3 separate regions of the Homo sapiens genome follow, and all the other regions are linked to region 3. Evidence: fine-mapped expression QTL. A gene starts in region 3. Each other region holds a variant in brackets. All regions are shown on one strand. Distances are between the middles of the regions.

What was found.
Region 1: its variant is fine-mapped to the expression of MRGBP in fibroblasts (GTEx, PIP 0.91).
Region 2: its variant is fine-mapped to the expression of MRGBP in whole blood (TOPMed, PIP above 0.99).

Annotation. Positions count from the first base shown.
Region 1 is chr20:62,740,091-62,750,287 of GRCh38, forward strand. All of the region lies in intron 1 of NTSR1 (neurotensin receptor 1), which reads left to right. Among named protein-coding and RNA genes, the nearest start is that of NTSR1-AS1, 9.8 kb to the left of the region's middle. RefSeq lists enhancers at 1-869, 1-478. The variant A/G (reference allele first, on the strand shown) is at 4,706.
Region 2 is chr20:62,811,872-62,822,068 of GRCh38, forward strand. COL9A3 (collagen type IX alpha 3 chain) reads left to right here and starts at 5,179. Exons shown (of 32, transcript NM_001853.4): 1 at 5,179-5,271; 2 at 5,696-5,764; 3 at 6,647-6,682; 4 at 7,351-7,422; 5 at 8,058-8,111; 6 at 9,310-9,345; 7 at 9,636-9,659; 8 at 9,886-9,939. The coding sequence starts at 5,194. OGFR (opioid growth factor receptor) reads left to right here. Exons shown (of 7, transcript NM_007346.4): 7 at 359-2,129. The coding sequence ends at 1,778. RefSeq lists enhancers at 3,359-4,045, 4,734-5,419, 6,108-6,793, 6,794-7,481. The variant GC/G (reference allele first, on the strand shown) is at 5,555.
Region 3 is chr20:62,794,047-62,804,243 of GRCh38, forward strand. It overlaps MRGBP (MRG domain binding protein), which reads left to right and starts at 2,427. Exons shown (of 5, transcript NM_018270.6): 1 at 2,427-2,625; 2 at 3,064-3,185; 3 at 4,541-4,622; 4 at 4,929-5,003; 5 at 5,410-7,683. The coding sequence starts at 2,478. The coding sequence ends at 5,597. OGFR-AS1 (OGFR antisense RNA 1) reads right to left here. Exons shown (of 3, transcript NR_102430.1): 2 at 7,969-8,063; 3 at 6,581-7,033. It overlaps LOC105372716 (a long non-coding RNA gene), which reads right to left and starts at 235. Exons shown (of 4, transcript XR_936986.3): 1 at 1-235. RefSeq lists enhancers at 1-52, 1,024-1,570 and silencers at 143-732, 2,194-2,733.

The sequences.
Region 1 (10,197 bases), 54 kb before region 3:
CTTTTCCTGCATGGAGCAGAGAACTTTTCCGGATGGTGTGGCTTTTTTCAAGGAACCGGGCTCCAAAGCGCTCTGTGCTAAGTGTGTTAGCTCCACTTCTGATCTGTCACGTTAGTGCCCTGCGTTTTAGAAAAGTATGAACGAAAGCCTCAGCAAACCGGATCGAACGGGCTCATTCGCAGCCATAGGGTGAGCGGCAGGCAGATCTTACAAGCCGTGCAGGCCGGAAGGAAAAGGGTTGTGGGGCTCATTCTTAGTCATAGGGTGAGCGGCAGGCAGATCTTATAAGCCGCACAGGCCGGAAGGAAAAGGGTTGTGGGGCTCATTCTTAGTCATAGGGTGAGCGGCAGGCAGATCTTACAAGCCGTGCAGGCCGGAGGGAAAAGGGTTGTGGGGCTCATTCTTAGTCATAGGGTGAGCGGGAGACAGATCTTACAAGCCGTGCAGGCGGGAGGGAAAAGGGTTGTGCCGACAGTCTGAGGGTGGAGACCAGAGCTGTGGACTCGAGCCCAGGGGAGCCCCCACCTGGCCACGGTTTCCTCATCTGAGAAACAGGAGTGCGAGGCCCTACCAGGGATCCTTCCCGCTCAGATCCCCAGAGAGGTGGGGGCCGTGACCGGGGCCAGAATTCCACCCCTCACTCACTGCTCTGCGCAGCCTCCTGGGCTTGTCAAGAGTTTTTAAAGCCCTGTCGTGCTTCCCAGCAGATGCCTTGTGGGTGTGAGCATTCTCATGGGCTTGAAGCTGGCAGATATTTGAAAACATGGCAGAGACCTGCAGCCCGCAGCCTCAACCGCTGGCTGTCACCTGCCGCTGCCTGTGATTTACTCTTGAGAAGTGCTGGAGCAGCTGAAAAGCAACTCGCCACCCCAGCACTGCCCTCAGAGTGACTAATGGGGCACACTGGGGTTCTGGGCCCCGGCCAGGCTCAGCGAGGGGAGGGCCGTTCCCGGGGCTGAGGGCCAGGGGCCTCCCCTCCTCCTGTCCTGGAGGGCACCTGCCCAGCACAGGTAGAGGAGGCAAGGGTGTCAGGAAGGCTCTTTCCCTAATCTGACTAAGGCCCTCTGGGCTAAGTCAGGGGTCTCCCGGCAGCCAGGCTGCTAAGTCAGGGGTCTCCCGGCAGCCAGGCTGCTGCCAGTCCCGCAGCTCAGCCGGGCACAGACAGGATGTGGCTTCCAGGGGCTTCTGTTCTGCCAAGTCCCCACTCAGACAATGGCCTCTATAGCTCCAGCAATCAGGAGGGAAAAGATTCCAACTCCCACACTCAGGGCTCCCTGCTGCCTGGAAGAGGAGAGGAGGGCAAACCTCTTGCAGAGGTGACGGGTGACTCACCAGCCCCGCTCAGAGGACGGGTCTGCAGGTGGCCAGAGTTCTCCTGATGGGGTCCTTGCCCCCAGCTGGCTTGGGGGTCCCTACACCGGCCCCCTGCCCCACACCATGTTCCTCCCACCCCATGTCTGTGCGCCCCTTCGAGCATGCCTGGGCATTGTCCATGGTACTGAACCCCTGAGGCTCCCTGGGGCTCTGGCATTCTCTTGAGCCTTTCCCAGAAATTCCAAACCAGAAGAAAAGTGCAGGGAACAGAGTGGAGGAGCCATGGACAGAGGCTGTGGGGCAGGCTCAGTCCCTGAGAGGTCGCCAAGGAGCCACAGCCTTGGACTAGATGCTCTCAAAACCTGGCAATGGCCCACAGAAGGCATCTGCTCAGGTGAGGTACATGCCACAAAGCTTCACCAGTGGGGATGAGGATCTGCTCATAGGATGGCCCCTGATGGAGGAAGTGGGAGCTCAGGCTGTGGGATCAGGCCCCTGGGTTCACAACTGTGCCTGGGTTTCTTTATCTACAAAAGGAGCCTGACAGGAGCCTCTGCCTCACAGATGAGACCTGTGTGCCTGAGGTGGTGCACACAGAGTATGTGTAGACCCCAGGACAGTCGATGTCAGCTAGAAAGTGAAGGTTAGAGGAATTCAAACCGTTATTTTTAATACTGAGCCAAAACCTGCACATCAGAGCTCTCTGATGGAGGCGTGGACGGGGTCGTGAGGGGCCAAGTACTAGCCAGAAGCTGCGCCGTCCATTTCATCCCCTCCCCACAGTGGTCCCACAGACACCGAGGTGGCTGACATGGCCCCTCCAGGTCACACGCCTGTTCTCTCTCCAGTCCTGCCCTCAGGGACTCAGAAATGCTGGCGTTCCAGGAGGTGGTGTGTGGGCTCCTCCTCAGGCCAGGTCTGTGGTCACTGCTGACCACGCGGCAATGTACGGCTTTCCAGGCCCCCATCCACCATGAGTCAGGCGTGTCCCCACTGGGCAGCAAGTCCCACAGCTTTGCATTCCAGATCCCAGCAGCATCTCGAGCCGGGCCTGGTACTGCTTAGATGCCTGGGAGGGAGGACCGAGGAAAGAGACTGGGGACTGAGGGACAGCACAGTATCCCAAGCTGGCCACTACCAGAACCTTCTAGAACAAGGTCACACTGGCAGTTCTTTATGCCTTCCGTCCTCTGCTCCCCAGACACCTGTTTACACAGGGCCCTAGGTCTCAGGTGTCCTGTGGGTGGCCGCTGCTTTTCCCTGGGTCCCTCCATGGTGTCTCCTCTGAGGACAGCCACTGGTCAGAGCCTCCTGGATGACCTCACTCCTGGAAAGCGCTGGGCTGTGTCACCTTAAAGACCCCTTTGCTCTCTTGGCCCTGGCACCCCACCTCTGGCATGGGGAGCAGAGACCCACCAGGGTTCCCATCCCTCTCCCCGCAGTGTTTCCCCAGTTCCAGGGCTGTGAGGTGGTCACAGTGGCTCTGGTGTGGCCGTGGGGTTCCTGTTCATCCCAGGGCACCTGTCACGGGACATACCCACAGCACAGGCAAGTGGAACGTTCTCTGAGTTTAGCTTTGTTTGTGTAGGTAGTTCACTGTGGGAGTCTAGCTTTTGGGGGACACACCTGAGACCCTCCCAGCTACCCTGCCCTCTCCCCAGATCAGCTCGGTAGGCTCCAATCCAGAGAGTCAGGCTGGGAGGGGAGCACGGAGCCGCCCCTGCTGGACACGTATCCCGGCCATCTCAGGCCCACCCATTGCCTCATTGCTCCCTGCCCCCGGTCCAGTCAGCTGAGTGCCCCGTGGTGTGGGTGCGTCATGCCATGGCGACCAGCCCCAAAGGGTGAGCCTTTGAGTTGTTCACCAATCATTGGGGTTTCGAACAAGCCTGTGCTGACGGCCCTGGCACACAGGGTTTCTGAATTAACTCTGCCATCGTTCCTGGCCTCAGCTGTGGTGGGGAAGGCAGTTCGGGGTCATGAGAACCCTGAGGGTTGCTCCCAAGTCAGTGTTTGCTGGGTCTAGTGGGGGCCTCTCCACCTGGAGTCTGTCTGGGAGGTTAGAAAAGACCGTCCGTGAGCCTGGGCCCTGCTGGGGCTGGTCATCTGCTCAGGGAGAGGGCGATCCCCTGCCAGCCCAGCAAGGCCACCCCAGCGGTCACCCCCTTGGGAGGGTGTGGACAGGAGCCTCCCCTCCCACCCGCCCCGCAGCCTCTGCAGCCATCTTACAAAGCCTCTGGGTTCTGCAAAGCAAAAGGGTTTTGCACCTTCCCACTCAGCACAGGCTGGCTGCGGAGCCGGGAAGCAGTGTGCCAGTCTGGGGCTGTCTCTTGATCTAAACACAATGGGATGAATTAGAGAGAAAGGCAGAATACAAAACAAGCAATTGCTCTCGAAGAGCGAGGTGAGAACGCCCTGCCTGAGGTCGAGGGGCTGAGGCCGGCTGTCTGGAGCCTGTGTCGGGGGCACCCTCCTGCTGTCTGGCTGTGCCCTCACCTGTGGGCAGGCATACCGTGTGCACCCCTCCCGCTCCCCACCTGGTCTCCACGGCCAAGCTCAGACCAACCACCCAGAGGCTGCGCCCCGGTCCAGATCCCCCTAACACACCTGCTGTTTCATTATCTAACCTTTCACTCCACCTCCGTCCTCCCCATCAAAATTACACATGCGAGGGGGCAGAGGCCAGGCTGTCCCTCCCATAGGTCCAGCCCCACCAGCCGTCGCCCCAGCGTGTCCCATCCCAGCCTCCCAAGCCGCAGTCCTGTGCCCCCCAATTTGCTTCCTTTCCCACACCCAAGGGAGCACAGTCAGTGCTCCAGGAACTGAGGCAGCACCTCTAGGCTCGCTCTTTTAGAAATGAGGCTGAGGGGCTGGACGCAGTGGCTCGTGTTTGTAATCCCAGCACTTTGGGAGGCCGAGGTGGGCGGGTCATGAGGTCAGGAGATCGAGACCATCCTGGCTAACATGGTGAAACCCTGTCTCTACTAAAAATACAAAAAAATTAGCCAGGCATGGCGGCGTGCACCTGTAGTCCCAGCTACTGGGGAGACTGAGGCAGGAGAATGGCGTGAACCCGGGAGGTGGAGCTTGCAATGAGCTGAGATCACACCACTGCACTCCAGCCTGGGTGACAGAACAAGACTCCGTCTCAAAAAAAAAAAAAAATACAAAATTAGCCAGGCATGGTGGCACATGCCTGTAATCCCAGCTACTCAGGAAGGCTGAGGCAGGAGAATCACTTGAACCTGGGAGACGGAGGTTGTGATAAGCAGAAATCGCGCCACTGCACTCCAGCCTGGGCAACAAGAGCAAAGCTCAGTCTCACAAAAAAAAAAGAGAGAAATGAGCCTGAGGCCCAGGAGGACCTGCCGAGCTCACAGCTGGCCAGGGA[A/G]CAAGCCAGGCCCCCACTTCTGGCACCAAACCCCAGGCATTCGGCTGCTTCTGAGAGGCTTGAGGCCCTACCAACCACTCAAACGCCATTCCCAGACCCAGACAGGGCTAGGAGGCAAGGGGTAGCAGCTGAGGGGTGCACACAGCAGAGGATACTGCCAGAAGCACGAATGAGATTCCCATGGAGGCAGCCCCACCTCCAGACCACCACGGCTGTCACAGCAGACACCCCTGTCTCCCACCATGACCTTCTGCTCTGGAACATCCACCCCTAAAACCTCAGACCCAGCCACTGAGGCCCATGGCCCAGAGCCCAGCTACCCAGCCGGCTCCAGGGAGGGTGGCCCAGCCAGTTCCTGCCACCTGAGGATGTTGGTACACACACCAGACTCAGAGGGAGACCCAGACAGACAGCAACACAAAGACAGAGAGAGAGACACAGAGAGGAAAGCAGAGACACAGAGAGACATGGAGAGAGACACAGAGACAGAGAAACAGACACATAGAGGAAAACAGACACAGGGAGACACAGAGACAGAGATACAGAGACACAAGAAAACAGAGACAGAGATAGAGACAGAGACACAGAGATATAGAGATAGAGACACAGACTCAGGAAAACAGACAGAGAGAGACACAGGAGAACAGAGACACAGAGATACAGAGATAGAGACACAGGAACAACAGAGACACACAGACAGAGACAGACACAGGAAAACAGTGAAAGACAGAGACACAGAGGAAAACACACAGATATACAGAGAGAGACACAACAGAGACAGACACAGGAAGGAAAACATACAAGGAGACAGAGACACAGAAAAACACAGAGAAAAACACAGAGACATCACAGGAGAAAGATACAAAGACAGACAGAGACACATATTCTGCCTCGCCTCCAAATCCAGCTTGGCGTGGACCTCGCTGGGACTGGATGGCCTTCTCTACAGCTGCTGAACAGCCTCGCCGTCCCCAGGGCTTCCCTGCTGTTGGCCATGACCCTCCCCTGCTGCTTGGAATTGCAAAGCCAGGCGGTCTGGGAGTCCCAGCCACCACGCGTCCCCCAGAATATTCATGGGGCTGGGCCAGGTGACTCCCTGCTCTCTTTAGAGACAAATCGAAAGGCGCCAGGGTGCTGTGGCATCAGTGGCGCTGAGGCATCCTCTGGCCGGCCCTGCATGGCCTTCAAGCTGCTTGAGTCCATTGGACAAAGTCCCTCAAGGCCACCCTATGTGGCCAGGGCTGAGACGCCTAGAGAGGTAGACGCTCAGCCTGGGCAGGGACGGGGGCCACACTAGCAGAGGTCAGAGAAGGGGTCAGCCAGGGGGAAGGTCAAGGCTGCCGCCCGGCGGGTCACCACCAGGCCCCCACACTACCCCAGCCTGGCCGTCTGCTTCCTGTTCAGTTCTCACCCCCTGAGTTCTCAGGTCTGTGAGTTTGCTGGACCGTCTGCCAGGAGAGCTTAGGGTCCCTGTAGGCTTGTGGGTGCCATCAGGTCAGAGATGAGAAGTCACCTCCAAGCAGAGGCCTTCCCGGAACCCCCAGCACTACTGCAGCCAGGCTGCCGCCAGCATCGCTGTGTCTGTAGCTCTTATTGGCCCTGAAGTCACTGCAGGTGGTTCTTTCAGTGGTCTCTCCTCCCCAGGATCCAAGACCTCTGACGGCAGGGGCTCCTATGGCTTCTCCAAGGCAGTGATGTTTGTGGGAGGGAGGAAGGGAGAAAGGTGGAGGGAAGCTAGACTAACCAAGAAAAAAGAGAGAAGACATAGCTAAAATCAGATATGAAAGAGGAGACTTTACAAGATGCCACAGAAATCAAAAGGATCATAATAAACTGTGAACAATTTTATACAAACCAGCTGGACAGCCTGGAAAAAATGGATACATTCCTAGAAACTCACAAGCTTCCTAGAGTCAATCGCGAGAAATGGAAAATCTGAAAGGACCAATAACAAAGAAGGAGATTGAATCAGTTACCAAAAACCTCCCAAAAAAGAAAACCCCAGGGCAGGGCCAGGTTGCTTCGCCGATGGATGCTACAAACATTTAAAGAAGAATTAACACCAGTCCTTATACAATTCCGAAAATGTGAAGAGGAAGGAACACTTTCTAACTCATCTTACAAGGTCAGCATTACCCTGATACCAAAGCCAGAGAAGGACGCTATGAGAAAAGAACCAAGAGGCAAAAATCTTCAACAAAATACTGGCAAACTTCATTCAACAGCATGTTGAAAGGCTCATCCACCATGAGCAGGTGGGATTTATCCCTGGGATGGAAACACAGTTCAGCACATATGAATCAGTAAATGTGATCCACCACATGAACAGAAGGAAGGACAAGAGCCATTTGATCATCTCATTTGATACAGAAAAAGCATTTGACAAAACTCAGCATCCTTTCATGATAAAAACACTCAACAAACTGGGTGTTGAATGCATGCTACACAATAAAGGCCACGTATGACAGACCCACAGCTAACACCACACTCAGTGTAAAGGCCACGTATGACAGACCCACAGCTAACACCACACTCAGTGTAAAGGCCACGTATGACAGACCCACAGCTAACACCACACTCAGTGTAAAGGCCACGTATGACAGACCCACAGCTAACACCACACTCAGTGTAAAGGCCACGTATGATGACAGACCCACAGCTAACACCACACTCAGTGTAAAGGCCACGTATGACAGTCCCACAGCTAACACCACACTCAGTGTAAAGGCCACGTATGACAGACCCACAGCTAACACCACACTCAGTGATAAGAAGTAGAAAGCTTTTTCTCTAAGGTCAGGCAAAGCAAGGATGCACTACTCAACATGGTCCTGGAAGGCCTAGCCAGAGCCATTAAGCAAGATAAAGCAGTAAAAGGCATTCACATCAGAAAGGAAGAAGTAAAATTGTCTCTGCAGATGACATGAACTTATGTATAGAAAACCCTAAAGACTCCACAAAAACAAAAACAAAAACAAAAAAAAACTGTTAGCACTAATAAACACATTCAATAAAGTTGCAGGACACAAAATTGGCATATGAAAATAAGTTGTGTTTCTATACACTAGCAATGAATTATCCCAAAAAGAAATCAAGAGGGCCAGGCGCAGTGGCTGACACCTGTAATCCCAGCAGTTTGGGAGCCCGAGGCGGGTGGATCACCTGAGGTCAGGGGTTTGAAACCAGCCTGGCCAACATGGCAAAGCCCAGTATCTACTAAAAATACAAAATTAGCTGGGCGTGGTGGTGTGTGCCTATAATCCCAGCTACTTGGGAGGCTGAGGCAGGAGAATTGCTTGAACCTGAGAGGCGGAGGTTGCAGTGAGCCAAAATTGTGCCATTGCACTCCAGCCTGGGCAACAAGAATGAGAATCTGTCTCAAAAAAAAAAAAAAAAAAAATCCCATTTACAATAGCATCAAAAAGAGTAAATTTAATCAAGGAAGTAAAAGACCTGTACACTGAATATAACATGATGAAAGAAATTGCACAAATAAATGGAAAGATACCTCATGTTCATGCATTGCAAGAATTCATATTGTTAAAATTTTCATACTACCCAAAGTGATCTACAGATTCAGTGCAATCCCTATCAAAATTTCAATGACATTTTACACAGAAATAGAAAAAAAAATCCTAGGATTCATAGTGAACCACAACAGACCTCAAATAGTCAAAGCAACATTAAGAAAGAGGAACAAAACTGGAGGCATCACACTTCCTAATTTCCTTTTATATTACAAAGCTATAGTAATCAAAACAGCATGGTACTAGTACCACATAGACCCACGGAACAGAACAGAGAGCCCAGCAATAAACCCACTTTCGTACAGTCAAATCATCTTTGACAAGGTGCTATGGTTTGAATGTCCCCTCCAAATCTTATTAAAACTTCATCCCCAGTGTGGCAGGATTGAGAGGTAGAGCCTTTCAGAGGTGATGGGATCTGTGAGGACTGGACCCTCATGAATGGATTAATCCATTCATAAATAAATGAGTTATAGGATTAAGGGGCAATCACACAAGGGGAGCTGGTGGCTTTATAAGAAGAGAAAGAGAGACCTGAGCTAGCATGCTCTGCCCCCTCTGCACGCGATGCCCCATGCCACGGCGGAACTTTTCCGAGAGTCCCCCCAGCAAGAAGGCTTTCACCAGTCGCATCCCCTGGGCCTTGGACTTCCCAGCCTCCATAACCATGATAAATACCTGACTTTTCTTTGTAAATTACCCAGTTTCAGGTCTTCTGTCATAAGCAACATAAAATGGACTTAGACACAAGGGCACCAATACACAATGGGGAAAAAGCAGTCTCCTCAAACAGTGATGGGAAAACTGGATATCCCCATGCAAGAGAATGAAATTGTAGGCCGGGCGCGGTGGCTCACGCCTATAATCCCAGCACTTTGGGAGGCCGAGGTGGGCGGATCACGAGGTCAGGAGATCGAGACCATCCTGGCTAACACGGTGAAACCCCGTCTCTACTAAAAATACAAAAAATTAGCCGGGTGTGGTGGCGGGCGCCTGTAGTCCCAGCTACTCGAGAGCCTGAAATTGTACCCTTATCTCACACCATGCAAAAAAAAATCAGCTTAAAGTGGATTAAAGATCTAAACATAAAACCTGAAACTATAACACTGCTAGGAGAAAACATAGAAGAAAAGCTTCTTGACATTGGTCTTGGCAGTGATTTTTTTATGACAGCAAAAACACAGGCAACAAAAGCAACATAAATGAGACTACATTAAAATGAAAAGTCTCTGCACAGCAAAAGAAACAGCAAAACGAAAAGGCAGTCTCTACAAAATGGGAGAAAAATAACCCATTTAAAAATGGAAAAGGGGCCTGAGTAGACATTTTTCCAAAGAAGAGCTACATATGGCCAATGGGTTTCTGAAAAGGTGCTCAACACCACTAGTCATCAGGAAACTGCAAATCAAAACCACAGTGAGCTATCACTGTACACCTGTTAGGATGGCGATCATCAAAAAGCCGGCAGATAACTCGTGGTGGGGACAATGTGGCGAAAAGGGGGCCCCGGTGCACTGTTGGTGGGAATGTATTAAATGGGTACGGCTGTTACGGAAAACAGGATGGGGGCTCCTCAAAAAAAGTAAAGGCAGAACCACCGTAGGATCCAGCAATCCCACTTCTGGGTATTTATGCAAAGGAAGCGGAATCCGGATCTTGAAAAGATCCCTGCAAGCCCCTGTCCGCTGCGGCACTGTTCACAATCGCCAAGACACGGAATCAACCCAGGTGTCCCTCAGCAGACCCGCGGATCGAGAGAGCGTGGTGCAGATACACAGCAGAGTGCTGCTCCGTCTTGAAAAATAAGCAGATCTGGTCATTTGCGGTAGCCGCAACAAACCTGGGGGCATTATGCTAAGTGAAATAAGCCAGGCGCAGAAAGACAAATGCTGTGTGATCTCGCTTATGTGTGGAATCTGAAAAAGCCAAACTCGTGAAGACAGAGAGCAGAGCACTGAGTGCTGG
Region 2 (10,197 bases), 18 kb after region 3:
CCTGCAGGCGGTACAGCCAGTTCTCACAGGGTGTTCGAGGCGCCTGTACCCTGCAGGGGCCCCTTGTGGCTCTCATCCAGCCAGCTCCTCCCCACCAGGGGGACTCGGGGTACAGCCACCCTCTAGGTGATGCGTCAGCATCCCCCTAACCCCCGTGTGTCTAGGGCCCACAGGCCATTTTCACAGGGATGGCATGAGTCCTCCCCTGGGCCCAGAGAGGTAAATGGAGAGAGAGACTGAATCGTGGGCCAGGGTGGGGAGACCTCGTGGAGCCGGGTGGGAGGGCAGGCCAGGGCGGGGTGCGGCCCAGCAGGAGGGGCCCCAGCCATTGACCTCTCCTGACCCGGATCTCTCGCAGGCGCAGCCACAACAACCTCCGCATCACACGCATCCTCAAGTCGCTGGGTGAGCTGGGCCTCGAGCACTTCCAGGCGCCGCTGGTCCGCTTCTTCCTGGAGGAGACGCTGGTGCGGCGGGAGCTGCCGGGGGTGCGGCAGAGTGCCCTGGACTACTTCATGTTCGCCGTGCGCTGCCGACACCAGCGCCGCCAGCTGGTGCACTTCGCCTGGGAGCACTTCCGGCCCCGCTGCAAGTTCGTCTGGGGGCCCCAAGACAAGCTGCGGAGGTTCAAGCCCAGCTCTCTGCCCCATCCGCTCGAGGGCTCCAGGAAGGTGGAGGAGGAAGGAAGCCCCGGGGACCCCGACCACGAGGCCAGCACCCAGGGTCGGACCTGTGGGCCAGAGCATAGCAAGGGTGGGGGCAGGGTGGACGAGGGGCCCCAGCCACGGAGCGTGGAGCCCCAGGATGCGGGACCCCTGGAGAGGAGCCAGGGGGATGAGGCAGGGGGCCACGGGGAAGATAGGCCGGAGCCCTTAAGCCCCAAAGAGAGCAAGAAGAGGAAGCTGGAGCTGAGCCGGCGGGAGCAGCCGCCCACAGAGCCAGGCCCTCAGAGTGCCTCAGAGGTGGAGAAGATCGCTCTGAATTTGGAGGGGTGTGCCCTCAGCCAGGGCAGCCTCAGGACGGGGACCCAGGAAGTGGGCGGTCAGGACCCTGGGGAGGCAGTGCAGCCCTGCCGCCAACCCCTGGGAGCCAGGGTGGCCGACAAGGTGAGGAAGCGGAGGAAGGTGGATGAGGGTGCTGGGGACAGTGCTGCGGTGGCCAGTGGTGGTGCCCAGACCTTGGCCCTTGCCGGGTCCCCTGCCCCATCGGGGCACCCCAAGGCTGGACACAGTGAGAACGGGGTTGAGGAGGACACAGAAGGTCGAACGGGGCCCAAAGAAGGTACCCCTGGGAGCCCATCGGAGACCCCAGGCCCCAGCCCAGCAGGACCTGCAGGGGACGAGCCAGCCGAGAGCCCATCGGAGACCCCAGGCCCCCGCCCAGCAGGACCTGCAGGGGACGAGCCAGCCGAGAGCCCATCGGAGACCCCAGGCCCCCGCCCGGCAGGACCTGCAGGGGACGAGCCAGCCGAGAGCCCATCGGAGACCCCAGGCCCCAGCCCGGCAGGACCTACAAGGGATGAGCCAGCCGAGAGCCCATCGGAGACCCCAGGCCCCCGCCCGGCAGGACCTGCAGGGGACGAGCCAGCCGAGAGCCCATCGGAGACCCCAGGCCCCCGCCCGGCAGGACCTGCAGGGGACGAGCCAGCCGAGAGCCCATCGGAGACCCCAGGCCCCAGCCCGGCAGGACCTACAAGGGATGAGCCAGCCAAGGCGGGGGAGGCAGCAGAGTTGCAGGACGCAGAGGTGGAGTCTTCTGCCAAGTCTGGGAAGCCTTAAGGAAAGGAGTGCCCGTCGGCGTCTTGGTCCTCCTGTCCCTGCTGCAGGGGCTGGGGCCTCCGGAGCTGCTGCGGGCTCCCCTCAGGCTCTGCTTCGTGACCCGTGACCCATGACCCACAGTGCTGGCCTCCTGTGGGGCCACTATAGCAGCCACCAGAAGCCGCGAGGCCCTCAGGGAAGCCCAAGGCCTGCAGAAGCCTCCTGGCCTGGCTGTGTCTTCCCCACCCAGCTCTCCCCTGCGCCCCTGTCTTTGTAAATTGACCCTTCTGGAGTGGGGGGCGGCGGGCAGGGCTGCTTTTCTTAGTCTGATACCAAGCAAGGCCTTTTCTGAATAAATTCATTTGACTTTGAGTCTTTGGTATGGACCGGGGTCCTGTTGGGTGGCTGGTAGGGCTGGTGTCACAGCTGATGTCCCTCCAGGCTCCAGTGGCCTGGCCCGGCGACCGCCTCACATTGCTCCACCAGGTGCCTGTGGGGGCAGAGTGGTGGCCCAGCCCTCCCCACACACCCACTTGGCCACACAGTCCCCAGGCATGAACAGGTGGGCAGGCTGCAGCCTCCCAGAGCCTCTGAAGGTGGAACCGAGGTCCCTCAGCAGGCTTTTGCCACCTGTTCAAGATGAGTCTGGGGCTTCCCTTGGGGTTGGCCGGGGCAGTGCTTGTGCATGGTGGGGTCTGGACCAGGCCTTTCTGCCTGCTGTGATCTGGGATGCGCTGCTGTGCCTCGGGCAGGCTTGGCAGTACTCTCTGGCGGGCCCCTTGGCTCCCTCAGGTCTGGTGGAGCCAGGTGTGCCCCCAGGGCAGTCCCTCCCTGCAGTCTGCCCTTGTCACCCTGGGCCAGGACCCCCCGCTTCCCGGTTCCCCTACATTTCTACATCAGCAGGGTAAGGGGCTTTTTGTGGGGCCTCAGAGGAGGGGCCGGACACTTGTCTTTGCTCAGTGAAGGACAGGGCAGACCTGGGGCACCCCTGGGTGGGAGGGTTAAAGCTGTAGACCCTGGTACCACTTCAGGTAAAATGCCCAGCTCCCATCTGGTGGCACAGGATACACGAGCCGGAAGTCACTGGGAGGAGACACCCGAGGTTCAATAATCCCCCAGAGCTGCGTGGGGAAGCTGTGGGACCCCTGGTGCCTCAAGTGTGGCTCAGGGGATTCCTGCCATGGAGGGAAACTGAGGCAGTGAGCTGGACATAGGGCTAGAAGTGCAGTCACTGGGGCAGCGCCCGGCAGATCCAGCGTCCCCAGTCCAGGCCGTTGTGGGGCTGGAGTCGGTGAAAATCAGCGCCTGAAGTGAGGAGCCTGTTGGAGCAGCCCTGGGGGCCGATGCCTGGCGGTGGGCACCTGGGGACAGCAGGCAGTGCTGGCCAGCCAACCCGGGCTTCAGGGAGAGTGATGACCCACAACAGGCGGGCAGCAGGAGGCTCTGCCCCACTCAAAAGTGAGCCGGGGGAGGCTGAGCTCTGACAGTGCCCACCCTCTGCCTAGGATCTGCCTGGAGCTGGGGGTGGTTTTTTGAGGGGCTTGAAGGTGGTTCGGGGGGGACACCAAGCAGGTGTCCCAGGCATGAGGTGGCTCCCCTGGCCTGAGGTGAAGGCCAGCTGTGTTTTGTCTGATTTGGGTCAGATAGCAGTCCTTGCTGACTGCATGCTGGGCATCATGGGGATAGGCAAAGTGGGGTGTGGGGCCAGGGACCAGGGGAGAGCCACTGAGGAGGGGGCTGGCCACAGGGTCATCTTGCCAGGTGGAACTGGTAGGGAGGACTTATCCTGTCCCCCAGACCCTGGGCTTGGGGTGGGGCTGGTGCTGGGAGCCCCTAAGGCCCCCTGCTGTCTGGGCTGACCTGCTCCACCCACCTCTCCCCGTAATCAAAAGTCCTCTGTTAGGAAGCTCTGTGCCAGGATGACTTGGACTCCTCAGGAGGGTGGGCCTTTTCAGCTCCTCCCACCTCGCCTGATGGAATTCGCACACACCCCTCCCAGCCCAGCCACCGCGCTCACCCAGCAGTGAAGGGAGAATCTCCCTCCACTCACTTCACCGCGGGAGAGATTAGAGCGACACTATTATTTTGAGACAGGGTCTCACTCTCTTGCCCAGGCAGGAGTGCAGTGGCGCCGTCTTGGCTCACTGCAGCCCCGACCTTACAGGCTCAAGCGATCCTCTTGCCTCAGCCTCCCGTGTAGCGTGGACTACAGGCGAGCACCACCATGCCCAGCCGATGTTTTAATTTTTGGTAGACATGAGGCCTCCCTCTGTCTCCAAGCTGGCCACGCCCGGCCGATGTTTCAATTTTTGGTAGAGATGAGGCCTCCCTCTGTCGCCAGGCTGACTGCGCCCGGCCAGAGTGCGGTGCTCCTGCTGAGCAGTTTTGCGCCCACTCCCCTCTCATCCCCTCCCGCCCTTGCTAACTCACAGCATTGCAACAGTCATGAGTCCCCACCTGCCGAAAGGAAGCTCCTGCAGCCCCCTACAACCCCCAGGGCAGCCTTTCTCGGGAATTTTCAAGATTCCTGGGGGAGGGGCTGGCATCTGCGCCTTCACTGAGCCTACAGGCAACTGGAAGCTTTGAGTCCCCTAGGGCAGCGACTGCCCTGGCAGCCTGAGGCAGAGCTTGGCCGGACCTGGCGACCCCTGAGCTTCTGGGAAATGGACATGGCCAGCACCGCCTTCAGGTTCCTGCCCAGGGCACGGTTCCTTCAGGCCGGGGATCCCGGGGAGGGGTTCTTCCCCTCGGCCAGGGTCATCGTTTTGCGATCTCTCCTGGGAGTCTGGGTTTGGAGTCTGGTCTTAGCCGGTAGCAACTGACGTGGCCTGACCACCCGGCCCGTCCAGGTCCACGGGTGAGGGGCCGCGGTGGGGGTGCTCCCAGCCCAGCAGGCAGCGCTGGACAGTGACCCCGGAGCGGGAACCAGGGCTGCGCTGGGCACTGACCGGGCCCTGGTACCGGGGATTCACCCTCCCCGGGGTGTTCCTGGGCCTTGGGTCGCCTGGGTCCGCTCCGGCGCCTGGGGAGGGGTCTGCGGCTTCGGAAACTCGCGGGTCTCCCCTGCCCCTCCCTGAAGGCGGCCCTTCAGCGCCGCGCGCTTCCGCCCCCACACTCGGGTTGAGGAGCAAGGAGAGAAAAGAGCGTCTTTCTCTCTTGCTCAAAGCTGCGTGTGTGCAACGCGCCAGTCCCAGGATAATTTTAACTCGCGGCCGGAGAGAACGCGCCGCCCGCCCGGCGTCTTTTTTGTTTTCGCCCAGGCGGGCTGGGCGGCGGCGCGGGGCGGGTGGAAGCCCCCCCGCCCAGGTGGGCCCGGCTGAATGGGGGGCTTGTGCAGGCGGGGGCGGGAAGGGGAAGGGGAAGGGGCCGCCCACCTCCCGCCCCGCCCGCCCGCGCGCCGCCCGCCCCGACGCCGCAGCTCAGACTCCGCTCAGCCATGGCCGGGCCGCGCGCGTGCGCCCCGCTCCTGCTCCTGCTCCTGCTCGGGGAGCTTCTGGCGGCCGCCGGGGCGCAGGTGAGCGCGAGCTCCGGGCTCTGAGGCTGGACGTGGAGCCGCGACCGCCCCAGCCCCGAACCCGCCACTCCGGGGTGCCCGGCGCAGCCTCGACGCCCCCAGCCCGTGTCGCCGTCGGGGCGCGGAGTCGCCAGCGCCTCGGGATGAGCCCCGTCCGGCCGCGTCCTCGATGGGTCCTCGCTGGCCCGGGTCGGCCGGCGCCGCCGCCTCCTCTGGGAGCACAAGGGGGCCTTTGTTCCCGCCGCCGGAGGGAGGCGGGGGACACACTGCGCGGGGGCGCCGG[GC/G]TCCGCCCGAGGCTTTGGGTCTCACCGAGGAGAGCGGCGGTCGTCGCAGGCCCCGGAGCCGCTCGGGACCCGGGAGGAGGGGACGCCGGGTCAGGCCCACGGGGGCACCTGCGCTCCTTAATGAGTTTTCTCCGTTTCAGAGAGTGGGACTCCCCGGCCCCCCCGGCCCCCCAGGGCCGCCCGGGAAGCCCGGCCAGGACGGCATTGACGTGAGTTTGGGGGTGGGGAGGGCCCCGAGCGCTCTGGGGTTCTGGCTCTGGCCCCCACCTCCCTGAGCTCCCCGGCCTGATGGAGAGAAAACCAGGCCCCACCTCCCAGAGCCGGGGTGACATCAGGGGACAGCCAGTGCCTTCACGGGATGGGGGTGGCCCTGCGGGGACTGCTGGTGGGTAGGGGTGGAGGGTGTCATGTGGTGGTCCTCCACCCAGAATGCCGGCACTGAGGTGTGTGTCTCTGGGTCCCCTGAGGGGCCCGTGCCCCTGTGTTCGGGGTTCTGGCCTCTGGCTGAAGTGGGGAGAGGCACGTCCTTTGGGTGGTTGGGGGCCGGGGGTCTTGTTGGAGGCTGCTGGGCTCTGGAGCCAGCCATGGAGGGGGCTTAGGAGCCGACTCAGTCCTGAGATGATGTCCCCTATGGGTATCTCAGGACTGGTGTGGGCCAAGCAGCAGGAGGAGGCGGCTGAAATTCTACAATTGTGCCTCCCTCGGAGGGACCGTCTGGGGTGAACCTCCCCATGTGACCACCACCAGGGCAGGAGTCCCCTCAGGGCCTGTCCACGCTGTGTGGTCCCCGTGGAGGGCTGTGGAGGGCTGCACCAAGAGCCCCCCATGACCCACCCTCTGCCCCCCTGCCCAGCTCGGCCTCAATGGCCACAGCCTCCTTCCAGTCTGTCCAGTTCACCCCTTTGCCCAGTGCTGCCCCACACATGGGAGGGTGCCCTCTAGGTAGGGATCGGGGGCTCAGGGGCCCCTTTTGTCTGCTGGGGCTGGGCCTCTGGGGCTGATTTGGAGGCCAGCGCTGCTCTTTTCCCCGAGGCGGGGTTCTTGAGGGACCCCTGATTTTCAGGGTTACATGTGGGTGTCTTTCCTCACAGGGAGAAGCTGGTCCTCCAGGTCTGCCTGGGCCCCCGGTGAGTGTCCCTGGCTGGGGAGACAGCCTTTTTCCAGTCTGGAGAGAAAGGGGGAACTCAGAACAGAGGGGTCATTGATATCCTGTCTCATCCTGCCGGAGCCCGGGTTGCCTGAGGGGAGGCCTCAGAGGGCTTGGAGCAGGCCTGGAGCCAGCGGGGCGGGAGGGGAGTGTGTGGGCTCAGCCTCTGCATGTTCAGGGCAGGGCCTGGCTTTGAAGCTTTCTTTGGACCAGCGCCAGGCAGGCCGGGACCGGGGCTGGTACAGCCCTTCAGGTCCCCCAGGCCTGAGGTCACCTGGAGCCCTCCCACCTTCTTCAGTTCCAGGGGTTGAGGGTCCTGGGGCTCAGAGCCCTGTCTGGGCCCACTGGGGGTCCGACAGAGATGCCTGCTGGCCCTTAGCCAGGGAGGCCGAGGTGACCAGACGAAGGTCTTACAGATGCCACTGAGGGATGGGGCGGGCAGCCTTCCTGGGCCAGCAAGGTGTGGGCAAGCAGGACACACGTGCCCCAGCTGAGCCGGGTCTGCCAGACAGTAGGGGGGACCCAGGAGAGGGGCCCATCCCGTATGGTTGGGCTGGGGGGAAGTGGAAAGCATTTTGCTTCATTGCTGAAGGCCTGGGCTCCAGGCCAGACCCCGCCTTCACATCTCTGCCCTTTCCTCCTGCACAGGGACCAAAGGGGGCCCCAGGAAAGCCGGGGAAACCAGGAGAGGCTGGGCTGCCGGGACTGCCGGGTGTGGATGTGAGTGCGCCTGCCCCTCCCCGCCATGCCCCACTCCCCGCTCCGGGTCCCTGGAGGAGTCCGGCCCTAATTGCTGTTGTCCAGCTGGGCCTGCTCAGGCGGGAAGCCCAGTCCTGAGAGAAGTCTCCAGAAGTCCCCAACAGGGGTCCTTTGGCCTTCATCCCAGACGCCACCAGCATCTGGCAGGGGACAGAGCCAGCCCAGTGGAGTCGGAAGTCCCGCCAGCCCTCCTTGCTTGTCCAGGAATGAGTGCCCATTGTCAGGACCTTCTGCCCACTGCTGGCCTCACTTAGTCATCTTGGGCTCCAGGCCTGGCCCCAGGGCCACGGAGTTTTGTTCGGAGGAAGCCGGGCCTGAGAAGTGAGCTGTCCAGTCCTGCTGGGTTGGTCCCCGAGGCCTGACTACAGCAGGTGCCTCCGTTGCTGGCTTCCCGCTGGCTGCCCCCTCCCTCCTCCCAGAGCCTCTGGCTACAGCAGGCAGACAGTGGACAGGGCCAAGAGAGGAGGCTGCCACCCTAAGGGTCTTCTATGCCTCTCTGGACTCACCAAGGGAAGGGTCCGTGCTTCCATTTTTGCCTGGGGGGTGGCATGTGCTTCCCATGTGGCCCCTCGAGCTCGCCCTCTGCCTCTCCCCAGGGTCTGACTGGACGAGATGGACCCCCTGGACCCAAGGGTGCCCCTGGGGAACGGGTAAGTGCCTGCGCCGAACCCAGTGGCTTGGGTTCAGAGGTGAGGTCCCCTGGCCACCTCTGGCTGCTCTGTGTCCACAAGGCCAAGGAGCTGGTAGTTCCAAGGACAGCTGCCCTGCCCGTGCCTGGGGTGGAGGGGCAGAAGGGCAGGGTGCCAAGTGGCCAGTCCCCTGTGCCTGCCTCCCTGCCTCACCTCCACGTATGGTCAGAGTTGTCCTGGTATCCAGACCATGGCAGGGAGAAGGGGGATGGTTTGGGGGAACCCACCCCAGGTGCCTCCTCAGAATGTCCCTGAAGCCCCCAGGGCCCTGGGCAGACCACCACCAGGGACCCCCGGGCACGCAGCCTGCAGAGTCCCCTGTGCCTGCCTGTTGGACACTGAATCCTTTACCCTGACGGAGCGGCACCACCACCCAAGGGTGCCTTTCTCCCCTTGTGGCTTCTGAGTACAAACCCGAAGCCAGCATTCTCTCTTTGGCTTCATAAGACGTGGCTGTCAGCCAACCGGGTGCCACTGGCCCCAGGCGCAAAGCATCACAGAGGGCAGGAAGGCTGGGCTGGGGACACGAGGACACAGCCCTGCCCTTGGGACCCTTGGGAGCTCGTCAGGCATGAGGCGGATTCTGAGCTGAAAACAGGAGGGAAACAGTAGCTGCTGGCAGCCGAGTCCGTGGTGCCCAGGGGTGTGGGGTGGGCTGGTCCCCAGGCTTTCAGGAGGGGCCTCCAGCCTCAGCACAGGGCCCGTGCGTGCCGTCCAGGGAATGAGGCATTTCAGGCAGCAGGGGCCAGACAGGGCCCAGAGGGTGTGGAGGGCAGACAGGGCCTGGCTGCCCAAGGCTCTGGGGCTCGCTGACGTGGGCGGGGGCTGAGGACTCAGCAGGCTCCGTGGGTGGGTTATCGGGAGGGCTTCCTGGTGGAGACAGGCACCCCGGGTCACTTCGGTGCCTCTCAGCCCTGCCTCAGGTTGCACCTTCTTGCAGCGAGCGCTGGGACTCTGGTGCCATCTGTCTCCAGCAGCTCCCCAGGACGGCAAAGACCCTCCAGGTCAAGAGGGCTCAGAGGCCCTGCCCCTCTGTGAAGTGGGGACTTGGACCCTGTTGTCCTGGGAGTTGGAGTTGTGACGTCACACTTCAGAGGGAGGGGATTGGGTTTGCAAATAGAGGCCCAGCCCAACCTAGACGCCTGCTTTCCTCCCACAGGGAAGTCTGGGACCCCCGGGGCCGCCCGGGCTGGGGGTGAGTATGGAGTGTGGTCCTCTCCTCTCCATGGGAGTTTGGGGAGCTGGAGAGTCTGGTCTAAATGGGGTGGCCTCCAGGAATCCCAGGGACCATCCCTGGCCCTCTCATCTGCAGCCTCTCCGGAGGCTGGTGCCTGGATGGGGTCCTGGTGCCCTCTCTGGGCTGGGACCAGACACCCATCCCTGGAACCGCCCTTTCCCCAGGACCCACCTGAGCCATCTTAGGGAGGGGTGAGGCGCAGCCCTTCTTGTGCCTGGCAGGCTCTGACCCCATGTTTGGCTTTGCAGGGCAAAGGCCTCCCTGGACCCCCCGTGAGTACTGACAACCCTTGGGGCCCTGAGCAAGCACGCAAGTCCCGAGAGCCTGCCAGGCTGGGATGTCCCAAACCGTGCCTGGGGGTGGGGCTTCTCAGGGGCAGCCATCTGACCACCCCATACTTGGAGCCCCTCTCCCTTCGGAGGCGGCACACCAACCCTGGGTGGGGATCCTCGGGGCTTCCGGGTGCAGACCTCCCCACCTCTCTTTACTTCCCTCCAGGGAGAGGCAGGAGTGAGCGGCCCCCCAGGTGGGATCGGCCTCCGCGGCCCCCCGGTGAGTGGCTGTCCCAGAGCCCCTCAGAGTGTGCTCACCTGTGGCCTCCACCCCCAGACTCAACAGCCAGGGGCTCCCTTCCCCTCTCCCTTTTCCCTTTCTCCCCCAACCCCACCTTGGTGGGTGTTGGTAGAAGCCCTGGCCAATGATCCAGACCCGACCTCAGGACGCAGACACCAGCACAGTCCGTGGGAGTGGGGGCTGGTGGGAGCTGGGCGTGTCCACCTCCCTGGGAGAAGCCGGGCACCTCACTCAGGT
Region 3 (10,197 bases):
CCAACCCTCACCGAGATCCCCAGGGAAGGGGCTGTTGTTGGCCCATTGTACGGAGGAGGGCACTGAACCCTCAAGAGGCTCAGGGCCTCGCCCGGTCACACAGCTGGAAGGCGCCAGAGCCAGGAAAGGGACCCGGAAGCCCGACCCGGAGCCTACACCCGCAGAGGCGAAAACATCTGCGTAGCGGCTCCCTGGCCAGTGGGCCGTGGTGGGCGTGGCCGAGAGGGAATGGGGCGGAGAGAAGCCCGTGAGGGCAGGGCGGAGGCGGAGGCGGAGGCAGAGGCGGAGCGGGCGGAGCCGGAGGCCGCGGCGGCCTTGATTGGAGGCCGCCTTAAGCTCGTCATGGATGCGTTTTGACCTGGCGGCCCCGCCCCTGACCCGCCCCCGAGCCGCCCTCCCGAGCGCTTCCCCGCCCGGCCCCAGCCTAGGCCCCGCCCTGATCTCGCCCCCTCTTCACCGTCCGGCCCCGGCCCCGCCCCGCGGTGGGGCCTCCGCAGCGACCCGCGGTTAACGCTTCCCCAGAGCTTGGGCTGCGCGGCGGCCGGGAGTCGGAGGCAGGCGGTCAAGGCCGGCAGGGCCGGACCCCCTACTTGCCCTTTCTCCCAGCAGGCGCTGGACTCTGGGGGCGGGCGTGAGCCCCTCCGTCCCGCACCCAGACCCGGGCAGCGAGCCCTATGCCTGCAGTAATTGTGGGGTTTCTGGTTTTGTTTTTTCCTTAACATCTTTATTGAGACCGTTAAGTTCACCCGCTTAAAGCGCACGATTCGGTGGGGTTTTGTTGCGAGCAACCGTGGCCACTATCTAATTCCAGAGCATTTCACCTCCTTAAAATGAAGCTGGGCCCGGCCGGGCGCGGTGGCTCAAGCCTGTAATCCCAGCACTTTGAGAGGCCGAGGAGGAAGGATCACCTGAGGTCAAGAGTTCGAGACCAGCCTGGCCAACATAGTGAAACCGCGTCTCTACTAAAAATACAAAAATTAGCCGGCCGTGGTGAGCGCCTGTAGTCCCAGCTACCCGGGAGTCTGAGGCAGTAGAATCGCTTGAACCCAAGAGGCAGAGGTTGCAGTGAGGCGAGATCGTGCCATTGCACCCCAGCCCGGGCAACAGAGCGAGACTCTGCCTCAAAAACAAACAAAAAAGAAGCCGGTCCCCATCCGCAGTGACTCGCGTTTCCCTCCCCCTCCCCCGTCCCCGGCAACCGTGCATCTACTTTCTATTCCTATGGAGTTGCCAGTTCTGGCTCTTCCTGTGAATGGATTCCCATGCTGTGTATTTTCGTGTCTGAATTCTCTGACTTTCGTCTCAGCCCGCACCCACGCTGCCGCAGTCCGCGCTCGCTGCTTTTAGGCTGAACGCGGCTGCGCCGTGCGGGTGCCCGCGCTCCGGGCGCCCCTCGCAGGTTCAGCCCCGGGTTGGGGGCGGCGCTTGCCTCGCGGCTGCGGGTCCCAGCCTGAACCTGTGTCTTGTTCCACTGCCGCGGGCGCCCGCCACGGAGCTGCTGCTTCCTAGGGAGACGGTTCCATCGTTGAAGGAACGGCCAGACTGTCTTTCGCAGCAGCGGCCCATCTGACCGCACAGCACGACCGCACGAGGGTCCCGAGCCCTGACCCTCGCAGCACTCGTCACCCCGGCCGCGTGGTTGTGGCGGTCTCGGCGGGGCAGGGGGTCCCCACGCGGGCTGATTCTAGTTTCGCGTGACCGATGGTGCTCATTAGCCATATCTGTACATCTTTTTTTTTTTTTCGAGTCGGAGTTTCGCTCTTGTTGCCCAGGCTGGATTGCAATGGCGCGATCTCGGCTCACTGCCTCCCGGGTTCAAGCGATTCTCCTGCCTCAGCCTCCCGAGTAACTGGGATTACAGGCGCCCGCCACTACGCCCGGCTACTTTTTTTGTATTTTTAGTAGAGACGGGGTTATACGATGTTGGCCAGGCTTGTCTCGAACTCCTGACCTCAGGTGATCCGCCCGCCTCGGCCCCCCAAAGTGCTGGGATTACAGGCGTGAGCCACCGCGCCCGGCCCATCTGTACATCTTCTTTGGAAAAATGTGTATCCAAATCCTTAGCCGTTTTATAGTTAGATTGTCTTTTTATTATCGAGTTATAAGAATTATTTATACCTTCTACAAGGAAGTTCATTATCAGATATAGGATTTGCAAATATTTTCTCTCATCTGTGGGTCGTCTTTTCACTTTTCTGATGGTTTCCTTTGAAGCACAGACTTTTTTGTTTGGGTGCAGTGTATTTCTTACTGTGCTTTAAAGAGGAACACGTTTTAAGAACCCCCGCGCGGGGCGGAGCAGGGCGGAGTCCCCGGCGGGAAGGGACCCGAGACCTCGGCTGCGCCTGCGCCGACGCCGGCGCGTGAGCCCGAGCGCGTACCCGGCGGAGCGCGCGCCCGCCCCCGAGTGCGCCTGCGCGGAGCTCGTGGCCGCGCCTGCTCCCGCCGGGGGCTCCTTGCTCGGCCGGGCCGCGGCCATGGGAGAGGCCGAGGTGGGCGGCGGGGGCGCCGCAGGCGACAAGGGCCCGGGGGAGGCGGCCACCAGCCCGGCGGAGGAGACAGTGGTGTGGAGCCCCGAGGTGGAGGTGTGCCTCTTCCACGCCATGCTGGGCCACAAGCCCGTCGGTGAGCGCCCAGGCTGCGGACGCGCGTGGGGGCGGGGCGGGCAACCGGCGGGGCGGGGCGGGGCCTGCGCTCGCGACACCCTCGCCCCCACGCTCCCCGCCGAGCCCGGGCCGTGACACCGCCGCCACACCCGTCCCGGGACCCCCGCCCCCTCCCACGCGCCCTTCGGACCCCGCCCCGGACCCCGCCCACGACCCCTACCCCCGTGAGACCGCGAGGTCCCAGCCCGCAGTGCCCCACCCCCACCCCCGCCCCGGGACAGCCCACCCCCTCCCACACACACCACCCAGCCCTGCCCCCCCACAGCCCCTCCACACCCTGGCCCTCCCCATCTCTCCGCAGCCACCCTTGCCCCTCCAGTCCCCAGGGCAGCCCGTCCCCTCCATCCCCTTTCTCCTCACCGCTCACCGGTTATCCCGCCGCCCCTCCTCCCCTCAGGTGTGAACCGACACTTCCACATGATTTGTATTCGGGACAAGTTCAGCCAGAACATCGGGCGGCAGGTCCCATCCAAGGTCATCTGGGACCATCTGAGCACCATGTACGACATGCAGGCGCTGGTGAGCCCAACCGCCCTCCCTGTGCCGCCCGATGGGGGCACGAACCCGCACACCGCTCTCTGAGAGTCAGCCTGAGCTGGGCAGAGGCCCCTCCATGTCTGCTGGGGTCTGCTGGGCAGAGTAGAGGCCCCTCCATGCCTGCTGGGGTCTGCAGTGAGCTCTCAGGGTCAGCCTGAGCTGGGCAGAGGCCCCTCCGTGCCTGCTGGGGTCCCCTGGGCAGAGACCCCTGCAGTGAGGCTCGTCCTTAAGGAGGACATCCCGGGGCTCCAGAGCCTGTCATGGAAAGCACAAACACAGTGCTAGCAGCTGGCTAGCTTTTCAGGGGCTCTGCTTTAGACTGGGTGCTGGGCCAGAGTCTCCAGCTGAGACCCTGGGGAGGGAGGGAAGGATGCAGAGTCCCGGGCCCTTAGGCCATTGTCAGCCTCCTGGGAGGCCCCCGAAGTGCTTTAGGCAGAGGGTGACCCTATCTGAGTCACACCAAGGTGAATTTGGTGACTTCTGTGGGAGTCAGACAAGTAGAGTTCCAGTCCTCGCAGAGCTTGGAGCTGGCACTGTGTGACGGGCGAGCGGGTTAACTAGGTAAGCAGGGTGGCCAGAAGAGACAGGTGGGTGTTCCAGGCCCTGTGGCAGCAGGAGGTGGTGGGTCCAGGAGCTCAAAGAAGGTGGTGTACTTGGAGAGTGGGGTGGGGGTCAGGGGTCAGGTGACCAGGAGGAGTGGGGACCTGTGCTGGTGGAGAGTCTGTGCCAGCCACGTTGGACTCAGGGCCACACCGGCCATCAGTATGACATAGGTCTCTCCCTCTGGTCTGTGCGACCTCAGGAGGGCAGTGCCTGGCAAGCACTCTCTTCTTCTTTGCCTGGTTCTGTGCCTGTGGCGCTCCCAACCGACACCCTCGGTGTCCATGGGCTCCTGCCACGTGGATGAGAACTCGAGGTGCCTGCGGCCTTTCCCCAGGGCTGTCACTGTGCCCTCTGCATGCCGCCTTGGGGAACGCAGTCTCATGGTGAGACTGCAGGCCGTGCTGGGCAGGCGGAGCCCACAGGTGTGTGTCACCAGGGCTGCCCGGTCCTCAGGGCCCGCCTTAGTGATGCTGGCCCCGGTGGGTCTTCCTGACTCCTGCATCTGCTGCCGCTGGTTCTGCCCTCCCTGGGTCTGTCTGGAAAGCCCAGCTGTGGCAGGCGCTGTTCACAAAAAGAAGAAATGCCCTTTGCCCTTGCCCCGCCCGCCGCAGCCTCCAACACAGTGATGTGTGCTCATTGGCCTCTCCCCAAGTGGCTCTTACACGGCTCTAGTGACTTCTTGAAACTGCATCTTCACCCTTGTTTCTTAAACAAAACTCTCTATTTGATATCAGCATGAGTCTGAGATTCTTCCATTCCCGAATCCAGAGAGGAACTTCGTCCTTCCAGAAGAGATCATTCAGGAGGTCCGAGAAGGTGAGGCTCGGGAAAGGTTGGGCTTGGGATTCAGAAAAGGCCAGACCCTGGCCAAGGGCAGGGAGGTGAGGGTGAGGACCCCGGGCCTCCAGGGAGGTGTGAGGGTCCAGCGCAGACCCCGCCCTACCTGTGCTTGGGTGGTCTTGGAACCTCCGGGATTGGAGAGGACTTTGTTTGAGAGCAGTGGCTGGACGGAAGCTGAGGCCTGTGTGGGCAGCAAGCGTCGGAGCAGTCCCTGGCCTGACCATCCCCCAGCGTCGGCCACCACCGTGGGTTTTCGGTGAGCGTCAGCTGTCTCCTCCACAGGAAAAGTGATGATAGAAGAGGAGATGAAAGAGGAGATGAAGGAAGACGTGGACCCCCACAATGGGGCTGACGATGGTGAGTGTGGAGCTCACCCTGCCCTGATGCCCTTTGGGGCTCAGCACCCCAAGACTGCCTTCAGGCAGGGCACAGTCAGGTGGGCGTAGAGCCTGCGGTGCAGAGGCCCCAGGCAGGTCATCTAGGCACAGGATGGATCCTGCAGTGCCCCCTCCCCAGGAGCTGAGTGCCTGCTCCATGTTGTAGGCCAGGGTCTGAGCGGCGGTCCCTGCAGTGCCCGCCGCAGGCAGGTCCTCAGGAGGACCAGGCCCCTCTGTGGGCCCAAATGCAAGGGGCTCCCAGCTCAGGAGGAAGCTTTGGGTTCAGAGGGTCACGTGTCAGTATGCAGATTTTTTTAACTGAACAGGAAGACAAAAATAAGATTCTGGATATTCTGTTTTCAGCCAAGTGATTTTTCGTTTCTCAGTTTTTTCATCTTCAGGGAGTTTGGGGAAAGCATCAGAAAAATCCAGCAAAGACAAAGAGAAGAACTCCTCAGACTTGGGGTGCAAAGAAGGCGCAGACAAGCGGAAGCGCAGCCGGGTCACCGACAAAGTCCTGACCGCAAACAGCAACCCTTCCAGTCCCAGTGCTGCCAAGCGGCGCCGCACGTAGACCCTCAGCCCTGGTGGCGGCAGAGAAGCGGGCGAGGCACTGTGGTCGCTGAGGGGGTTGGCTGGGTCTGAGTGCCACCCCCCAGGCCACAGTGATACCATCCCAGTGCCATGAGCCCACACTGCCCGCCCTCAGGCTCTCAGGTGAACGTGGCCGTCAGCGGGGAAACGTGTGTGTCAGTTGGACCATGTGGGACCCTGATGGACCTGAAAGACCAGGATCGGTCCAGCTCAGATATTGAGGGCTCTGAAGCCTAGTTCTGTCTTCTCTGGAGCAGCTGTGGCTTCCCCGTGGCTGCTTGGTGACATGGATTAGCGCTACGTGGGCTGCAGCATTTGGGATCCAGGCTACCTAGAGGGGCATCGGGCCAGGGAAAACCTCGGATTAGCAAGCAATAAAAACATGACCTCACTCTTCCTCAAAGGAGCCCCTGGTCTTCCCTGTGTGACTCAGTTCTTTCCATCTGTTTGTCCCGCTGCAAGCCTCTTTCTGCGCTGACTGTGACATTGGAACGTGGCCTTCCTGTCACCCCCTCCGTGCCACGCACTGAAGGCCACCCCCACCCACCTGGGAAACTAAGAACTGGATATTTTGCCTCATTCACTTGTACTGTAACAATGTATATAATTTGGTTGGTATTTCACTATTTAATTTTTAAGAAGCCTATTTTACTAGTGTTTTATATGAACAAAGTACTGCAGAAGTTAAACCTGTGTTGTATTTTTTCTGAGATGTTTTGCTTTAAGAGATACTTTTTGCTCAGTTTTTATATGCCAGATACAGAGAATTTGTAGCGGTTATTTTTGTATGATCTAGTAACTTGCAAACAGACCAAATGGATGAGAGGCGGGGACCGTGCAGCTGTCGGCTGATGAGGAGGCGGCCGCCCCAGTGCTGATGGAGATGCCACTTTCGTGTGACTGCGAACATTAAAGCACAAAAAAATCCAACCTGGAGTTGTGTGATTTTGATACCAAAGTAAGTTCACTTTTCCTCCAAAAGGAAGTTTTTATTTTTCCAAGATTTATAACTAAAGCATACACTTAGATGACTTATTAACATTCACTTGATACAACATATAAACAAAATAGTAACAGATTCTGAGTGGTTATTTTGTGGACTGTGACAAGCACTTCAAATACAAAATGTTAGGAGGGCAAAACGGTGCGGGCCCTCGTAGGTCAGGCAGGCACCAGTGGGCTCCTTCCTGCTGAAAGCTGCGGCTGTGAGATGAGACCGCTGGCTGGGTCACAGAGTGAAATCCAGCGTTCCGTGTGCGGACGAGGAGACAAGCTGTCCTGGCCAGCCATCGCACCCCAATGTCTTCAGCTTGACGTTGCTTCTCTGCCAGTGGAGCCTCCTCCACCACCTGGGAACATCCCTGGCCATCTGTCCCTGAAGTCCTCCTCACCATGACGCAGATCACAAGGCACCCACTAAAGGGGCAAAGCCAGGAATCCCGTGCCATGTGATCGCCCCGTGTGGCACCTGCCACTCGTCTGCACCAAACGCACTGCCAGTTCTGGGGAAGAACAGCCCAGGGAAGCTGCTGGTCTACGGCCTGCCTGAGCTGTATTCCAAGGGTAGAGCAGCTGCCTGGGGGGACCCTGTGGGTCCCTTTTCTATAGAGCCGGGACAAATCCACAGCCCTGCAGTAACAGCCTGCCACAAAGAGCAGGCATCTGGAGGGCCCCACACACATAGACCAAAGGACTGAGCCCGCCTGGCATTCCTCCACTCACAGCACAAATACTCAGCCCTGCAGCCAGGGAAGGGTGGGGTCTCCCTTTGCTGCCCAAGTGTGCCCCCTTGCCCGTCTGATCTCTCCTGTTAGGTCAGCCTCATTCAGGGCTTTGTGCCAGGTCCTGTCCTGGAGTCTCAGTCCGGGACAGCAGCCTGGCTCTTAGGCAGTCCAGAAGCAGCAGGGCAAAGGGGGGCAAATACTAACACGGGGTGTCACGGGATGGCCAGGAGGAGTCCTGCTCGCCACCCAGGCTCACTGTCCTAAACCTCCATCTGAAACCGCATCTCGGGTGACCTCAGATTGTGCTAGGAAAGCCTAGTTAATAAATCTGCCTCATCTCGATTACTGTAACATTTTGCTGCACTTCCAGGAGAAAGCTAGAGCCCACAGGTTAAGCCCACTGGGCAGGTGAGCAGCGTGCCCCCGCCCCGGGCCTCCCTTCTGGACCAGAGGCTGACTGGTTGAAGTCAGGAGCCACGCAGCCCTTATGGACTCACAGGGGCTTCTGGGCTTCCCTGTGGGGAGGCCCAGTTCATGCTCTGCTGGCAGGTGGGATGACCAGGTCAAATTCACAAGTGTCAGGGCAAGGGCGATGTGGCCTCAAGTCCTGGTAAGCGCTGTACTTACCCTCTCCTGGCCCCAGGGGTCCTGTCTGTAACCTGGGGGCTTTATGTAATGCACACTCCACCATGTCATGTAGAAGGTGCCGACTGAACCCCAATCTGAAAAGGAAAACAGCTGGCATGAGGCTGGCCCGTGCACGGACGCTCACGCGCCTGCTGCTGTAGAGGCGAGACGTGGTACACTGTGCACTCGGGACAAGATCTGAACGGGTCAGAAGCCGCCGCTGATGTTGAGCCTGGAAGCCTCAGCAGCGGCTCTACACCTGGAACACGCAGGGCCCAAGAGCACCTGCTGCCGCAGAGACATTTTCTCTATGGCTGGCAGCTGCGGGTGGGGACTCAGTGAAGGCTGAGAGTGGGAGTGATCTGAACTCCCCCGCCTGCCCACCCAGGGCGACCCAGGGGTGACTGGGAAAGGCAATTGGGCTCCACTGCTCCCCAAATAGCAGCGAATAAATACTGAGCGGCAGGGCACTGGCAGCGAGGCTCCCTGCTTGGCTGGTTGATTGAGGACAGGGCATGCTTGGGCCAAATCAGGAGGCTGCCACTGGTCTTGCCTGGAGAAGATATGAAGGCTGTAATCCAAGCTCCCAGCCACACAAAATTCTGCTGGGCTCCTTAGCTGTGAGCATTGCCTGCTCCAGGCACATCACCCACTGCGTGTGCAGAGACCATTGCCCTTCCTGGGTGCCTGGGAGCTGTGTGTGTGTGTGTGTGTGTGTGTGTGTGTGTGTGTGTGTGTGTGTGAGTATGTGACAGAGAAAGAGAGCCCCTTTCCCCAGCCTCAACAGCAAACCCTTCTGGAATGCCGTGCCACACGGGGCGTCACTGGACTGCAGAGGATGCTCTGAAGAAGCAATTCTGTTGCACAGTCCCCTGCAGCAGCTCCTGCACTTCTTGGATTAGCACGCCCCCGAGATGAGCTCTGCACACACACACACACACACACAACACAAAAGCAACTAAAGAAGCAATTTGGTGTGGTGATATTTGTAAAACAGAAGTTGGGCAATGTCTCTAATACTCTTTTTAGGGAAGTGGTTCTATAGTCCTGCCGACAGTAGGTAGCAGCGGGAATGCTGTCCCCGTAGAACAATGTTGTCAGCACCCAGTATGCTTGTCTTTCTGTTTTCTGGGGCAGTGGAGGGGGCAGCCTGACCACCCAAGTCTCAGATCACCCAAACCCTATACAACCACCCAGCACCCATCAATGTCCCCATCAGAGCCCCCCGACTCCACCTCACAGTCTATTCTGATGCTGCAACCAGATCCCACCTGTAAATCATCTAACAAGGAGGTCAGGCAGCTCACTCAGGCTCCCTGGGAAACCTGCCCTGGCCACTGCACTAAGTTGATTTACAGAAATGTCCAGCGCCCCAGAACTTCGGGGCATCACCACTGTCGTTTCAAGAAAGTGTGATGCATGTCCACAGGTTCCAGCCAGGTGAGACTGCACCTGCTAACAGTGGTCAACAGGTCAGCAAAGATTAGGGCCCAGCACCCAGAGGGTCCTTAACCTGTACTTGTGGCCAGGATTGGAAGACTTGCGTTCACGGCTGTCCCTGGCACACAGTACAAGGAATGTCACCAGTTCCCAGGCCCAGCAGGCCTGCAGGGCTAGGAGATGGCAGTGTCCCCTAGGGGCTGGGCTGGGGCCTTCTCCACCTTTCCACCACCATCATTACAGGGACAACTCTGCGAGGAGCTATCCTCATGGCCAAGTCCAAAATCCAGATTTAGTTTTACCTAAATGTTTTGAAATGAATTGGTATAGCAGTTACAGAAGAAATTTATCTGGAGTGGCCACTCCTGATTTTTATTTCAAGAGGTCACCAACCTTGCCATGTATCTGCCAGCAGATGTCAAAGGTGGATGAGCAAGGGACCCGCGGTGCTGGGAAATGGCAGGTGAAAGTGACTTTGTGTTGCCCCATATCTGCCAGTGCTTAGAGAGAGGGCCCTGAGGAGGCGCTGAACTGGCATCAGCTGTGTTGAACAGTCCCCAGGGTGACCCTCCCGGTGGCCCAGGCTTCGTGTGGTCCTCTCCCCTAAGTGCCTTCTTACAACTGAGAGATGGCGGCAAAGGTGAAGGAAGCCACGGCTTGCCCATGTCATCCTGGTTATATAAGACTCGGCACCCTAGAGAGAAAGACTCCCCTGGTGGCTTTGAAAAGAAAACGGCCGTGCTTTGCACTGCCTATGGAGGGACAGGGGTCCGCCAGCAGCTTCCAGGA